2 separate regions of the Homo sapiens genome follow, and region 1 is linked to region 2. Evidence: fine-mapped expression QTL. A gene starts in region 2. The other region holds a variant in brackets. All regions are shown on one strand. Distances are from middle to middle.

Region 1 (5,371 bases), 33 kb before region 2:
TGGCCATAGTTCCCTCTGAGAGAAAAGGGGTCTTGGACGAGGGGGTCATTGCCAGGGTCTGGCTCAGTCTTAGGACTTTCTTTCCGAGGGCCAGTGTTAGGAGCTTTACAGATTGAAGCATTCTGATACAAAGCCATAAAGGCTTCACTGTATGGTATTTCTGACCATTTACCCTGCCTTTTGCAAAGTAAGTATAATTGTAGGTTAGTATTACGATGTAGCCTTCAATGGTCTGGCCATTGCACCTGACTGTCTAGCTGATATTGTGGCCAAGTAGTATTAAAATAAAAAACTCAAGCATTTTCTTCTCAGATTGTCAGGGTCAAATTGATTTCAATGGTTGAGGGTGCAGCCAGGCAGGGAATCAGGTGGAATAGATGGGGTGGGTCCCATAGCAGTCTGGGAGAGAAACGAGACCCTAAGGAGGACTTATCTGTGGACCCGAAATTTCCGCCTGGGGCGTCCCCCTGGGGAAGTCTCAGGTTTAGCCTTGCATCCCAAGGCCCCCCCTTCAGGGTCCACTCTTACAGTGTCAGGCGTCTCTGACCTCAGGTGGGCACCAGTGCCGCTTTGGATGTTTTCTCTCCACAGCCAGTGGCCCACTGTGATTCCCTTTGTACCTGGATATAATCCCTGGCTTTTCACGTCCCACCAATTTAGATGGACCATGTCTTCCTGCATTCTTCACAGGGTTATGGTAGGCCCTTTACTTCCAGCTCTTCATTTGTTCCAGGATGAAACTCAAAAATCCTAATATTAATAACATTAAGGCTGGTGGGGTATTTCTTGTAGCCAGCGACACCAGAGGGTGGTATATGAATCCCTGTGGCTGGTAATTTACTTTGCGGTCTGAACAGGAGAAATACTGTTTGAGCAGGAACCACCAAGACGTGGGGTTTTCCCTAAGCTCGTCCTTTTCTGCACTTTCCGTGCATAAACAAAAGGGGCATGAGATGGTGATGGGGGCTCAAATGCAACAGTTTAGCAATCCCTGGTCCCGACAAAGCATTAGCAAGGCGAGGGGAGAAATTAGAAGATGAAGAATTAAATCATCTCAAAGACATTATTGCTGCACATACACAAACCCGACTGTTGCACGGATTTGTCTTGCTCTCGGCAGGACCTAGGTGTCCTGTTCCATGACCGAGTTATCCGGTTACTAGAGACTTCAAGCGGCAGGCACCCTACTGGCTTTTAACTGCCTAACCCATGCCCGCAGATCGCGGCTTTGACAAAAGAAGATAAAAAAGAAGAAGGAAAGGAAATCTAAACCCCAGACAACAGGGCTTACCTCCTGGCTGGCTCTCCAAAATATGTTACCAGATAGAAACTCTTGGCTGTATGCTGTCTAGGCTCTTTGTACAAAGAATTAAACAAAACGTACAAACAAAGCAATAAAAGAACGAAGCATCAAAAAAAAAAAACAACGAAAAGTGCAGATTCACTGAAGCGAAATTGCACTCCACAGAGCAGGAGAGGCTCGAGCAAGCAGCTCAAGAGCCCCGACTGCAGTGTTCTCTAGGGTTCTTATGAAGCTGAAAGAATCTGGTAACACCCCTAGGTGCCCTTTAGAGGCCTCCAGTGGGTTACAATATATGAAGGATTGGCGTGTGACCAGTCAGAGGCTGAGGTGGAAACTCGGCCTGCAGTCAATCAGAGGCTGAGGTGGAAACTCGGCCTGCAGTCAGTCAGAGGCTGAGGTGGAAACTCGGCCTGCAGTCAATCAGAGGCTGAGGTGGAAACTTCTGTCTTGTCATCACAGGACTGAGGATGTGGCCTGTATGCCGCCTCGTCCTGTCTAGAACTGGCCGCACCTGCTGTTCCCTTGCTTCTGCCTTAACCCTTGGTTGCCCTAATTCCATACTGTCCTGCCTCAGGTCGTCTGCAGCTCTGTTCTTTCAGTGGTGATGGTACTTAGATCTCATAATGTAGATACAGGTGTGCTCATTGCTATGGGGTTTGCATTGCCTCTATGTCTCTGCAGTTAGCAAAGTTAGGATGTAAGTATCCTTTTCTTTATTATTTTTTAAATCAGGGTCTCCCTCTATCACACGAATTGGAGTGCAATGGCACAATCACAGTTCACTGTAGCCTTGACTTCCCATGCTCAAGCGATTCTCCCACCTCCGCTCCCGCAACCCCTGCCCCATCACCACCACCAGCAGCAGCAGCAGCAGTGGTAGCTGGAACCACAGGTGTGCCACCACACTGGCGTTTTTTCGTAGACATGGTGTCTCACCATGTTGCCAAGGCTGAGTATCCTTTTTAAAAAAGGAAACAAATCACATGTTTGCCCTCTTTCCAATTCAAAACCAGGATTTCAGGGCTTTTATTTAACTTGATTTTTTAAAACTGTATCTCTTCATTTTTATGCTGAAAAACTTTGTTTTTAAGAATATTCACATATTCGCTTTATCCTATAACATAATAGTTTCAAAATAAAAAGGCTAGCATTATTACAAAGAAGAAGGTTATGAACTAAGAACAAGACTTCTTTGCAGCTCCTTCTGTCCTGGGAGTGTGTCCCACCAGGATGTATCTTCAAAGTGCAGTGTTCTGAGGCTGCTGGAATAATTGCCTTTTCTGTAAAATTAACTTACCAACTTGATATACAGTTTGAGGTTCCTTTGTTTCCATTTATTCTCGGTTTCTGGGGATTTTTATTTAGTATTTTTATTGCATGCAGAAAACTACATACACACTATTACAAAACCAAGGCTTTGATTTTGACTTTTTGAGAAGGTGCATTCTGAGAAATCTCCCTTTTTTTCCTGTCCCCCTACCCCCACCCTGTTCTCTCCTCTCACCTATAATCTTGTCATTGTTTCTTTTTTGCAAATATATAAAAGA[G/A]TTGTTTGTATTTACATTCTTCCCCTTACACAAAAGGTGGCATCCCCACGGATCCCCACGGATCCTCACAGATACCCACAGACACCCACAGATCCCCACAGATCCCCACGGATCCCCACAGATCCCCCACCGATCCCCACGGATCTCCATGGATATCCACAGATTTTTTTCCCCCACAGATCTCCGTGGATATCCACAGATCCCCCGCAGATCTCCACAGATCTCCACGGATACCCACAGATTCCCCACGGATCCCCATGGATATCCACAGATCCCCAAGGATACCCATGGCGCCGTTCTTCCCTAGACTTTCACATGGATTCATGCAGCCTGGAGAAGGCTTCCTATCAGTGCTTAGGGACCGGGCTCACTCTTTCCCGCAGCTGCGTGGTCCCCCTGGGGGATGTGCACCAGTGCACTGGGACAGCCGTGCAGTGATGGGCAGTCGGGAGGCTCCCAACCCCTGCTATTTCAAATAGCGCCCCATCGAGAAGCTCCACACTGCGGCATTTTGTGTGTCGGGGCTACGCCTCTGGGATGGAATCCTGGGAGCGGGTGGAAGGCTAACCCAGACACGGTCTTGCAGGGCACTGACAGATTCCTCTCCATTCCCGCAGCCGTGCCTGCGCGGGCGTTTCTTCACAGCCTCACCCCAGGGCAGGCCTGGTGACCCGCCGAGACTGCTGGATTTTGCCAATATGAGGGGTGAGAAAAGACATCTCAGTGCAATTTTAATTGGCGTTTTTCTGACTATGAAGGTGGTTGAGCCTCTTTTCGTGCAGTTAAAGAGACATTTGTAAGAATTTTTCTGTAAACTGTTCATGTTTTCTGAATTTTTCTAATTTTCCCCTAGATTTTTAGGAACTCTTTTTAAATGCGCAGAAATCAGCCCTTTGGCTCGTACGCTTCCACTTCCCTCCCAGTGTGTCATTTGTCTTTTGACCTCCTTTCTTCCTTCTTTTCTTTTGCCCTCCCTCCCTTTCTCTCTCTCTCTCTCTGTGTCTCTCTGTCTCTCTGTGTATGTGTCTCTCTTTGTGTGTGTCTCTGTGTGTGTATGTCTGTGTGTGTGTCTCTCTCTTTGTGTGTGTCTGTGTGTTTGTGTGTCTCTGTGTCTCCATGTGTGTCTGTGTCTGTGTGTGTCTCTCTCTGTGTGTGTATGTCTCTGTGTGTGTGTGTCTGTGTGTGTGTGTGTCTCTGTCTCCCCCTTTCCTCCTTTGTTCCTGTTGCCCTCAGCATGCGTGTCTCCCCTCCTACTCGCATCAGCCACACAGGGCTCCCTTCCTGTGCAGGGCACAGCTTGCTGCAGGTGTACATGCTGTGGGTTGGGGACACTCTGGGGACTGAGGCTCTTCCCCTTGTGTGGCGTCCTTGGCCTCTGATGTTCTTCTCAGAAGTGCTGCAGGCCCTGTAACATGTTTGGACTGGTCACCTCCCCACCTCACTACTACCAAAGGGAGCATGTCTGTGTGTGTGCGTGTGTGTGCATGTATGTGCATGTGAGCATGTCTGTGTGTGCATGTGTGCGTGTGTGCATGTGTGCACTATGCACATGTAAGCATTCTGTGTGTGCATGTGTGTGCACATGCGTGCGTGTGTGTGTGTGCATGTGAGTGTGTCTGGGTGTGCATGTATGTGTGTGCCTGTGTGTGCATGCATGTGCATGTGAGGGTGTGTGTGTGTGTGTGTGTGTCTGTGTGTGTGCATGTGAGCATGTCTGTGTGTGTGGATGTGTGCATGTGTGCCCATGCATGTGCATGTGTGTGCATGTGTGCACGTGTGCGTGTACATGCATTGCATAAGTGTGTGCATGTGAGCAAGTGTGTGCGTGTGAGTGTGTGCATGTGTGTGTGGTCTGCAGACTCTGAGGCCAAAGGCTCCTCTGCAGATGAGGAAGAGTGGCTAGTGAAATTTCAGGGACTGCCCTGGGGGCTCCTGTTCACCCGCTGAGCTATGGGGGCCCCCAGACCCTCAAGTTCCTGCCCCTTCTCAGCCCTCCCTCTCCAGCCTCAGTCGAGCCTGGGAGCCTGGACAGCCTTGGCCTGGGTCTGCAGTCTGCGGTTTCTTCCCAGGAAGTGAAGTGTCCCTAGTTCCCTGAGCCCCCTCCCCATCTCCCACCTCCTGGCCCCAGGCTCTGTGTTTGCTCCTGTGACATCACGCCCCGCCCCCAGCTCCGGCTCCCCGGGTGTGCGTGTTCAGTACCGGCCTGCACGCAGCTGAGCTCAGTCGGTGTCTGCGGAGGAGGGGGCTGGACTCAGGGGCTCCCTGACAGACGCTGCAGGTGCCAGGTCTGGGGCATTAGGACCCTTCCAAGGAGAAATGGTGTGGGGAGGGCCGAGCTTGTGAGGGAGCCCTGGGGGCCGAGCGGCGGTGGTGGGGAGCAGGTGTTGGGGGGTCTGGTCTGGGTCTCCCTGTGGTCTTCTGTTCTTCCGGAGATCAGACTTCCTGCAAGGACTGGCAGCCCCGCCATACCCAGAGGCTGAGTGAGCTGGCTGAGAGGGCCGGGTGGGAGGTGACGCTCAGC
Region 2 (5,371 bases):
CAGCCCTGCCCTGAAGGTCTTAGGCATCATATCTTCACCCTGGAGTGTCTGAGAGGTCATGACCTTGCCCTGGGGGCTTGAGGGAGGCTGCGTGGTGCCTGGGTGGGATGAGGGGGTGGGCTCCACATACAGAGCCCACCACGCCTACCTGCCGGCTGTAGGCAGTGCTGGGGAACCAGGTGTCTGCCACTGCGGGTCCCCTTTCACACCTGCGCACCATCCCAGGTGGCACCTTCTGTAGGGGCTGGACCAGACCCACTAGCCTTTCCGGGGCGGGACAGAGGGAACAGCCTCTCAGTGGCGAGCACTAAATTTAATTCAATCTGCGAATCAAATGTGCTCTGATTGTCCCTAGGTGATTCTCGCAATAAGCACTTGCCTGGGCTGGGCAGTTTGCACCTGGGCTGAAGAGGAGCTGGGCCCAGAGGGAGGCAACGTGCAAGGGCCTGGGCCCCTGTGGAGGGGAGGCGGCAGGTGGAGGCCCCTTGAGAATCCCAGTAGCGCCCTTCCTAGGAGCAGCTCCTGCAGCACTAGATTCAAGGGCCTGTAGCGGTAGCCGGGGCGGGGCGCGGGGGAGGTAGGGCAGCAGGAAAGCGGGGCACCAGGGAAGAGGGGCGACAGGGAGGCGGGGCGTGGGGGAGGAGGGGTGAAGATGACGGGAGGCGGTGCACGGGGGAGGCGGGGCACAGGAGAGGCGGGTCGACAGGGAGGTGGGACGCTGGGGAGAAGGGGCGAATGGGGGCGGGGCGATGGGGAGGCGGGGCGACGGGAAGTAGGGGCAGTGGGGGAGGCGGGGCATGGGGTAGACAGGTGTGGGGGAGGCGGGGCACCAGGGAAGCGGGGCGTGGGGGGAGGCGGGGCGTGAGAGAGGCGGGGCAGTGGGGGAGGCGGGGCGTGGGGGGAGGCGGGGCAGTGGGGGAGGCGGGGCAGTGGGGGAGGCGGGGCGTGGGGGGAGGCGGGGCAGTGGGGGAGGCGGGGCAGTGGGGGAGGCGGGGCAGTGGGGGAGGCGGGGCGTGGGGGAGGCGGGCCGAGGGCGAGAGGGCGCAGGGAGGCGGGTGGGGGTGGGGCCACGCGCGGAGGGGCAGGGAAGGGCGGGGCGGGGCGGGGCGGGACGGGGCTGGGGGGGACAGGCATCAGGTATGAAGAGTTTGGGGCTGGCGGGGCGTGTCCGGCTGTGGCGTGGGCACCACTATGGGAGACCCTGGCTTGGCAAGTGACCTTGCAGCCTTGGCTGGGGAAGGGCTAGATGCTGGGTGGGTGCCGGTAGAGTGGAAAGAATGACAGGTTCAGGTGAATTAAGGAAGGATGGTTGACTCGGTGGCTGGGACATTAGAGACAGGTATTCCCAGCCTCAGGCGCTGTCCTAAGCCCAGCAGGTACTGACCCTTGATGGTCACCTCACCCTATGAGGGAGCTGAGGCCTGGGGAACCCAAGGGGCTAGTCCAGAACCCACAGCCGGGGGAAGGAGGAACCGGGTCTTAAACCCAGGTAGCTCACTCCAGAACCAACTCAACCTCTGTTACAGGTGGCCGGCCAGAAAATGCCCCACCCCACCCATTGACAGTCGGGGAAACTGAGGCCTCAGTAGGTGAAGTGCCTGGCCCAAGCACCAAGGCACACAGAGACGCTCAGGCTTGACCCTGGCTCCGGACGTCCAGCCCCTGCCGCTGCCCCACCCCTCTGCTGCCCTTGGGAGAGGGGCAGCTCAGAGCCTCGACTCTGCACTCTGCATCAGCACCCCCCAAGGGCTTGGGTGGGGTCTTGAGAGGAGGGGGTGGCCTCAGGGAGCGACCTGGGCTTTCCAAGCCTCTCCCAGAGCAGCCCGTCTCTCACACAAGGCCAGAAGGCAGGTGGGTGCTGATGGCTTTCCCAGCAAGAGACCGAGGGGGCGGGCCCCCAAGAGCTCCAGAAAGCTCTCCACCGGACACCAGCAGGAACAGCACTGCAGATGGAGCAGCAGGGGCAAAGACCCGAGGTGATAGTGAGGGGCAGCCGGGAGGCCTTGGGCCTAGCAGTGCATTGCTGAGTGTGGGTGAGGAGGAGGTGAGCACGCAGCCTTAGCTTGAGGGCATTGACTGTGTTTTTACTTAAATGCTCTTAAAGGGGCCTGGGTGTGATGCTGACTCTAGGATGACGATGCTTGGCCAGTGACCAGCAAATAGAGGGTCTGTGACCCCAAGGTCCTGTGACTATGGAGCCCAGACATGGGGTTGAGGGGTGTCAGGCATGGCCCATTCCGGGGCGAGGCTCCCTGCCCTGCACTGCAGGGCTGAGGCACTGAGCGGCAAGCCAGGCGAGGGCCAGCACCACCTTCCACCTGCCGTGGCACGGGTGCACAGGACGTTCCAAGGCCAACCACAATGACTTCTCCTTCCCCTCTGGCCCCAGATGTCCTGGAGGGAAACAACAGTCCCTGGCCTGGCGCCTGGAGCTGGGGACCAGTGTGAGGCCCATTGTTTGAGGCTGGAGCTGGTGGGGGCCACTAGGAAGCCCACGGCAATGCCCTTCATCCCACTTACCGCAGCTCCAGAGCCCTGCGGGAGGACTCAGAGTCAGGGACACAGCAGCGTCCGGCGAGATGAAGGCGCTCGGGGCTGTCCTGCTTGCCCTCTTGCTGTTCGGGCGGCCAGGTGCGGGGCAAAGGGTAACCCTGCGGTGAGGGGGCAGCAACAGCAGTCCTGGAGCACAGGGACCTCCAGGGACCCCCAGCAGGGGCTTAGGAAGAAGGAGGGGATGAGGCTGGAGTCCCCAGCCCAGAGCAGCATGGATGGAAGCTGGCCTGGGTCCCCGAGAGTCCCCAAATATCTGCGCCCCTGTTTATGTGGGGTGCGGGGAGGGGCTACCATAAAGGGCCAGCCCACAGCAGCTGCTGTTGTAACTACAATGCCAGGGCACACTCGGCTGCAGGACAGTGAGTAGGGTGAGTAGGGTAGTAGGACAGTGAGTAGGGTGAGTAGGCTGCAGGACAGTGAGTAGGGTGAGTAGGGTGTTCAGGGTAGGGGCCCTCCCCAGCCACCCTGGGGCCCGAGGATGGCTGGGGAGGGCCAAGGAGTTGGGGGCACGATGCTTGCCCAGAGCAGGTGTCCTCCATACCCGGGTAGCTGAGGCTTACAAGCATCCCTGCACGGCCAGGGAGAGGGCAGACACAGCAGGAGGAAGAGGAAGAGGACGAGGACCACGGGCCAGATGACTACGACGAGGAAGATGAGGATGAGGTGGAAGAGGAGGAGACCAACAGGCTCCCTGGTGGCAGGAGCAGAGGTATGGCCGCCCCAACCCCAGAGCCCTGCTGCCTGATCTGCCTGGAGCATTCTGGGCGGGGCTGTGTGATGGAAGCCAGCAGGCCACAGTCCTGCTGTGAGCTTGCCTCCAGCAGAGTGGGGGACACTCAGTACACCCCTCACTGCTGCTCACCATGACACTCAGTTGCCTTCCAGAGTAGGGAACAGGGGAAGAAGCCACCAGCTGGGAGGGTCAGTGGTGCCAGGATGTAGAGGTTAAATAGGAGTTCACCAGGCAGAGAAGGGCTCAGTGGGGGCCTAGGGTGGAGACACAAGCACAGAGGCCCCAGGGTAGGGTTCAGTTTTGTGGGGCAGAGAGAGCAGCAGGGTGGGCCGGTCCTGTACAGGGGAGGGCTGGATTGGCTGCTGCGGGCTGGGGAGCCAGGGAACCGCTTAGAGCAGAGCAGAGTAGGGCTAAGAAGAGCCCACCCTCACTGCCCACCTGACACACCCCTACACGTGGGCCACCCTCTGCTCTCTCCCATCCCGAGAAAAGCAGAGCAAATCGCCGCATCCAACCCGAGGGCCGGCCCCTCCCTAGCCAGGGACCACAGCGTGCCCCACCACACACAGCCCCTCCCTAGCCAGGGCCCCCAGCATGCCCCACCACACACAGCCCACCCCCCTCCCAGGAGCCCCAAGCCTGCCCTCAGCACGAGCCCTGCCCCACACACCCACGAGGTGTCCCCTGTGAGGCCCTCCTCTGCCAGGCCTGGTGCTCCTGGAGGCAGGACTGAGTCAGACCCACCTCCAGGTTTCTGTGACCACGGCAGGAGCCTGGGCAGCATTGTCGCAGGACGTGAGTGATGATGGGAAGTTCGCCCTGCCTGACCCGCAATCCCTTGCCCCCTAAACACACAGGCTCACGCACACAGCACAGCTTACAGGACCAAGTCAGGGGTCGCCCGCCCATCTGAGCAGTGGGTGCTGGAGGCTCACCAGGCTAGGCTTTGGGAGCACAGCTGAGAACGGGGAGGTGGACAGGGACGTGGGAGGAGACCCTGGGGGGCCCGGCCTCGGCCTGAGCCCGCCTTGTCCCCAGTGCTGCTGCGGTGCTACACCTGCAAGTCCCTGCCCAGGGACGAGCGCTGCAACCTGACGCAGAACTGCTCACATGGCCAGACCTGCACAACCCTCATTGCCCACGGGAACACCGGTAAGTGGGCGTGGGGCCGCAGCACATGCACCCCCAGGCGGCGGGAAAGCCAGGGGCCCGGAACAGAGCCCTGCAGAGCCACCTCAGAGACCCCGCCCATCCTCAGCACTTGTTCCCCACTCCCCTTCCCAGAGTCAGGCCTCCTGACCACCCACTCCACGTGGTGCACAGACAGCTGCCAGCCCATCACCAAGACGGTGGAGGGGACCCAGGTGACCATGACCTGCTGCCAGTCCAGCCTGTGCAATGTCCCACCCTGGCAAAGCTCCCGAGTCCAGGACCCAACAGGCAAGGGGGCAGGCGGCCCCCGGGGCAGCTCCGAAACTGTGGGCGCAGCCCTCCTGCTCAACCTCCTTGCCGGCCTTGGAGCAATGGGGGCCAGGAGACCCTGACCCACGGCCCCTCCCCACCCCCACCCGGCTCACCCCCGGCCCTGCCAGCACTCTGTCTGGTACCTTCCCCTCCTGCCCCTGCACCAGCTTTGGAGAATGGATTTGGAGTGTCTTGGGCGATCCAGCCAGCGCAGGCCCCCCGGCCCGGTTGCTTCCTCAGTTCCCGGCTGTGTCCTTGGTGTCCTTTCTCCACCACCTGTGAGCAGCAAGACTGCCGCACGTGGGCGCTGGGTCCAGACCTCGGCTGCCACGCCCCAGGACCTGCAGCCCTCATGGGGGCTGGGGATCCCCATCAGCACAGCCAGGCAGAGATGATACCCACCACACACCTGGGGGCCCCCACACCCAGTCCTCACCCTTAACTTCTGCCATGGGAATTCCTCCATCTGCAGCGGTCACACGGGCCCACCCTGCCCTTCCCCAGGTCGGCCTCTCCGCTGTCTGGAGGGAAGGGGATTTGGAGGGAGGCTGTCGTCGCCCCCAGGAAAGACGGGCCTGGGGGAGGCGGGACAGTGGGAGAGGCGCGCTGAGGATGAGAGGG

Evidence for each region. PIP is the estimated chance that this variant, and not a neighbour inherited with it, causes the effect.
Region 1: its variant is the best candidate, but not a certain one, in a credible set for the expression of GPIHBP1 in prefrontal cortex (CommonMind, PIP 0.66).

What each region holds. Positions count from the first base shown.
Region 1 is chr8:143,178,140-143,183,510 of GRCh38, forward strand. No RefSeq gene overlaps it. Among named protein-coding and RNA genes, the nearest start is that of LY6H, 21 kb to the left of the region's middle. The variant G/A (reference allele first, on the strand shown) is at 2,851.
Region 2 is chr8:143,210,689-143,216,059 of GRCh38, forward strand. It overlaps GPIHBP1 (glycosylphosphatidylinositol anchored high density lipoprotein binding protein 1), which reads left to right and starts at 2,530. Exons shown (of 4, transcript NM_178172.6): 1 at 2,530-2,631; 2 at 3,134-3,262; 3 at 4,325-4,438; 4 at 4,571-5,371. The coding sequence starts at 2,580. The coding sequence ends at 4,830.